Regions from separate parts of the Homo sapiens genome. Here region 1 is linked to region 2. Evidence: fine-mapped expression QTL. Tissue or cell type: whole blood. Region 2 holds a variant in brackets; the other region holds the start of a gene. All regions are shown on one strand. Distances are between the middles of the regions.

The links. PIP is the estimated chance that this variant, and not a neighbour inherited with it, causes the effect.
Region 1: FLYWCH1 starts here. The variant in region 2 is fine-mapped to the expression of FLYWCH1 in whole blood (TOPMed, PIP above 0.99). The same link has a PIP of 0.9 or more in blood mononuclear cells, breast, cerebellar hemisphere, cerebellum, esophagus mucosa and fibroblasts.

What each region holds. Positions count from the first base shown.
Region 1 is chr16:2,910,434-2,913,040 of GRCh38, forward strand. It overlaps FLYWCH1 (FLYWCH-type zinc finger 1), which reads left to right and starts at 1,498. Exons shown (of 10, transcript NM_001308068.2): 1 at 1,498-1,721. RefSeq lists silencers at 1,249-1,308, 1,359-1,668, 1,689-1,838, 1,869-1,968, 1,942-2,131.
Region 2 is chr16:2,942,538-2,945,147 of GRCh38, forward strand. The region is part of intron 9 of FLYWCH1 (FLYWCH-type zinc finger 1); the gene reads left to right. It overlaps FLYWCH1-AS1 (FLYWCH1 antisense RNA 1), which reads right to left. Exons shown (of 4, transcript XR_007064947.1): 3 at 790-947. Among named protein-coding and RNA genes, the nearest start is that of FLYWCH1-AS1, 12 kb to the right of the region's middle. The variant C/A (reference allele first, on the strand shown) is at 1,282.

The DNA of each region.
Region 1 (2,607 bases), 32 kb before region 2:
AGAGAAAGAGTCTCACTATGTTGCCTAGGCTGATCTCAAACTCCTGGGCTCAAACGATGCTCCTGTCTCAGCCTCCCAAAGTGCTGGGATTACAAGCAAGAGTCACTGTACCCGGCCAACATGGATGAACTTTGAAAGTGCTATGCTAAGGCTAGGCGAAAGAAGTCAGTCACAAGAGACCACATATTTGTTGCATGATTTCATTTATATGAAATATGCAGAATACGCAAATCTATAAAGACAGAAAATAGATCATATTACTTAGGGCTGGGGTGATTAGCAAATTGGAGGGTGGTGGCTAAAGGTTTCTTCTTGGAGTGATGAAAGGTTTTAAAACTGACTATGGTGCTGTTTGCACAACTCTCTGACTATACTACATATCATTTAATTGTACACTTTAAATGGGAGAAATGCATGGTATGTGAATTATATTTCAATAAAGATCTTACCAAAAAATAGTAAGCTGATTGTGTTAACATAGTTTTATGAAAAAGTACAATATTTTCCCAAAGAAATTTAGTGAGACGAGTGACATAGTTATACATTTTTGCAAATATCTTTGTTGCGGGCTTAAAAGAAGACTACTGGCTCTCATACCTGCTTCTACATTCAATGTGTTACATCACACGTCATGCAGACTTTGTAATACTATGTAATATTTCTGCTTTTTTTTTTTTAGACACAGTCTCACTCTGTCGCCCAGGCTGGAGTGCAGTGGCGCCGTCTCGGCTCACTGCAACCTCCGCCTCCCGGGTTCAAGTTATTCTCCTGCCTCAGCCTCCCGAGTAGCTGGGATTACAGGCGCCCAGTACCACGCCCGACTAATGTTCGTATTTTTAGTAGAAACGGGGTTTCACCATGTTGGCCACGCTGTTCTCGAACTCCTGACCTCAGGTGATCCACCCGCCTCGGCCTCCCAAAGTGCTGGGATTACAGGCGTGAGCCACCGCGCCCGGCCCAGGTATTTTTTTGTCGTTGTTGGCTTTCTGATGTAAGAAACAACTGTCCCTTCTCCCCCGTTGACTTATTTCCTTCAGTTTGGACTCATATCGTAGTCAAGGTTATAATCCGTTGCTATCGCTGTTTATTTGAATCTCACACTGGTTCCGCTCTGGGGTAGGGTCACTGGGGGCGTCAATGAGATGCATGAGAATCGCCTTCCCACGGGGTCAGGAAACTGACAGGCCCAAGAGTGCATCTCAGCAAACGCTCCGTTTCCTGCGGGCAGCCTCAGATACTGGGGACCGTCCTGGGGTCTCAATTAAGCGCCCCCTACCCCAGCCCCTTTACGCCAAGAGCGTCCTGTTCAGCTCCCCCATCCTAGCTCCGCCCCTGGACGCCGCCGTCCAATCTCGGGATGGCCCCGCCTTTTCCGTGAGTTACGTCCCCGCCCCCATGCGCTGACAGGCCAGGCCTGCGGCTCGGCGCCGCGCAGGGAAGACCCGGAGCAGCGGTTTACCTAAGGAACGGGCCGCGCGGTCTTGCTGCGCATGCTCTGAAGTAGCGCGCCTGAGCGTTCCGCAAGGCCGGCTCCCCGGCGGGGTCGCGCGCGCGGTCACGGGGCTCGCTCCCGAGGGGCAGGTCGGGGCTGGGAGCTGGTGCCCGGGTCGGGGTGGCGGCGGCGGCCTGGGTCGCGGGGTCGACGCTCGCTGCTGCAGCGGCAGAGGCTGAAGGATCCGCCGCGGCGCTGTCGCGGGAGAGGGAGGGCCCCGCTGCCGTCGGTGAGGACAGGCCCCTGCGGGCGGGGAATGTCCCGCGTCCCCGGCGTGGACGCGCCCGCAGCCCGGCTCTCCCGGGGGTCCCGAGGGTTGCGGGTGCTGGGGAGGGGTCTGCGTCCCGGCGCTCAGGCCGCCTCCTGTGGGGTCTCCCGCGATTCCCTCCTTGCTCCTCGCCCCTCCATCCCCACCCCCCCGTCCCCTGGCCTAAGCCCGACACCCCCACATCAAGGATCCCCGCACTCGTCCGCCGTTTCCTGGCGGTGTCTGCCCCGCCCAGCGCTGCCTTCCTGGACCCGCAGCATCAGCCCCGTCCCACGGTTGCAGCTCGGGCGGTCCCAGTGACCTTGCACTTTTGCGGGTCGGGACGCACCCCGCTCCCGCTTCTGACCCTATAGATCTCCGGTGACGGCTTTCGAACTTTGTTGACCCACAGCCGACACTGAGAAATGCCTTTTACGCGTGTACTCTGTGCCTGTGGGTCTGGATGACTGAAGCACAAGTTTAAAGGGAGACGCTTGTTTAAGCTCACATGACGCAGCTGGATCTGTTCGGATTAAATTCCGTTCCATTCTCTTCCACCCCGTTCCAAAAGGCTGCTGCTAACCCATGGAGCCTGCACATAACGGGTCTGACGTAGTTGAAACCCTCGCTCTAAACCCTGCCTGTTGTTCCTTTATTCCTTGTACTGGAAGCTGAACTCCCATAGTCAGATAATCATGTGCAAACTCCAATTCCAACGAAATGGCTTATTTTTATTTGCATATTTCTGCTTTCCAAGGGCCAATATGATTTCCAGGGCTTGATCTAGATTTTCTCGTGTGATTATATCATGTTTCTCTTGTTCCTTTCCCAAGTGCTACTGGCGGGACGTGTGGAAGGAACAAGGCTG
Region 2 (2,610 bases):
AACGTAGAATACCAGCAAACAGAATCCAGCAACATAAAAAAGGATTATATACCATGACCAAGTAAGATTTATCCCAGGAATGCATCAACATGCAAAACCAATTAATGTAACACAGCAGGCCTGAGACTGCTGCCCTAAGAACAGCCTGTGTGCAAGGTTCACCCTTGGCTGGCATCTGGGAACTTTTTTTTTTTTTTTTTTTTTTTTGAGACGGAGTCTCACTCTGTCGCCCAGGCTGGAGTGCAGTGGTGTGATCTTGGCTCACTGCAAGATCACTGTGAGTGATCCCAGGTAGCTGGGATTAGAAGTGCGCACCACCACGCTCAGCTAATTTTTGTATTTTTAGTGGAGACGGGGTTTCGCTATGTTGGCTAGGCTGGTCACGAACTCCCGACCTCAAGTGATCCACCCGCCTCGGACTCCTAAAGTGCTGGGATTACAGGCATGAGCCACCACGCCCAGCTGGCATCTGGGAACTTGACTGGTAAAGAGCTCCTATGTGGATACAATACTATCCCCAAATAACAACTGCTCACTCTTTTCTATACAAATCATGTGATATTTGCTGAACACTTGCTTTTCTTCTGAGCCTGGCATTTCGGTGACCATATTCAGTCACGCAGGCACAACGTACCTACATGAGCAACCCCCAGTGAAAACCCTGGACTCCTGGGCTCAGGCAGGCTTCCCTGGTAGAGAACACTTTGCACATGTCACAGCTCGAGGCTGGAGGATTCAGCACATTCTGCGGGAGGGGACCCCAGGGGAGGGGACTCTGGGGGCTTGTACCTGGTTTCCTCCGGCCCTCACCCCAAATGCATCTTCCTGTTACTAATTCTGCGTCGCATCTTTTCACCGTAGTAAATCCCAGCCACTAGTATGATGGTAGGCTAAGTCCTGTGAGTCCCTCAAGTGCAGTCACCAAGCCTAGTGTGTGATGGGGATGCCTGCATACCAGATCAGTAGAGAAAAGGACAAAAACCGTGTGATCACTGAATAGACACAAAACATTTGACAACCTCCAACACGCTTTCATGATAAAAACATTCAACAAACTAGGAATAAAAGGAGTTTCTTCAGCCTGATCAAGAGCATCCGTGAAAACCCCCACAAGCAGGCCAGGCGCGGGGGTTCACGCCTGTAATCCCAGTACTTTGGGAGGCCGAGGTGGGCGGATGACCTGAGGTCAGGCGTTCGAGACCAGCCTGGCCAACATAGTGAAACTCTGTCTCTACTCAAAATACAAAAAATTAGCCAGGCGTGGTGGCGAGCACCCGTAAT[C/A]CCAGCTACTTGGAAGGCTGAGGCAGGAGAATCACTTGAACCCGGGAGGTGGAGGTTGCAGTGAGCCAAGATCACGACATTGCACTCCAGCCTGGGCAACATAGTGAGATCCCGTCTCTACAAAAAAATTTAAAAATTAGCTGTGTGTGGTGGTACATGCCCAGCTACTTCGGAGGCTGAGATGGAAGTGTCACCTGAGCCTGGGAGGTTGAGGCTGCAGTGAGCTGTGATCATGCATCTACACTCCAGCCCAGCGGACGGAGAGAGAACCTGTCTCAGAAATAAAAGTAGAGCACGACAGCTCCCACCTGTCATCCCAGCACTCTGGGAGGCTGAGGCGGGCGGATCACCTGAGGTCAGGAATTCCAGACCAGCCTGGGGAACATGGAGAAACTCCGTCTCTACTAAAAATACAATAGCCAGGCTTGGCTACAGGTACAGCGCACCTGTAATCCCAGCTACTTGGGAGGCTGAGGCAGGAGAATCGCTTGAAACTGGGAGGTGGAGGTTGTGGTGAGCCGAGATTGTGCCATTGCACTCCATCCAGCCTGGGTGACAAGAGTGAAACTCCATCTCAAAAAAAAAAAAAAAAAGATCACATACAATTATGTATAGTACCTAATATTTGATAATGATAATAAATATGTTATTAGATTATTTACTATACTTTTTATCATTACTTTAGAATATACTCCTACTTATTTAAAAAGTCAACTGTAGGCCAGCCACAGCATTGGCTCACACCTATAATCCCAGCACTTTGGTAGGCTGAGGCAGGCAGATCCCCTGAGGTCAGGAGTTCCAGACCAGCTTGGGAAACATGGTGAAACCCCGTCTCTACTAAAAATACAAAAATTAGCTAGGCATGGTGGCGCCAGCCTGTAATCCCAGCTACTTGGGAGGCTGAGGCGTGAGAATCGCTTAACCTGGGAGGTGGAGGTTGCAGTGAGCTGAGATGGTGCCACTGCCCTCCAGCCTGGGCAACAGAGTGAGACTCTGTATCAAAAAAAAAAAAAAATTTTTTTTAACTGTAAAACGGCCTCAGGCAGGTCCTTCAAGACTTTTTGGAGGTATCCAAAAGAAGGCACTGTCGTCATAGGAGATGACAGCTCTAAATGTATTATTGTCCCTGAAGACCTTCCAGTGGGACAAGATGTGGAGGTCGAAGATGGTGACATGGATGACCCTGACCCTGTGCAGGCCTAGGATAGTGTGTGTCTTAGTTTTTAAGCAAAAAATTCAAATCCTTGGCCGGGCATGGTGGCTCACACCTGTAATCCCAGCACTTTGGGAGGCTGAGGTGGGTGGATCACTTGAGGTCAGGAGTTC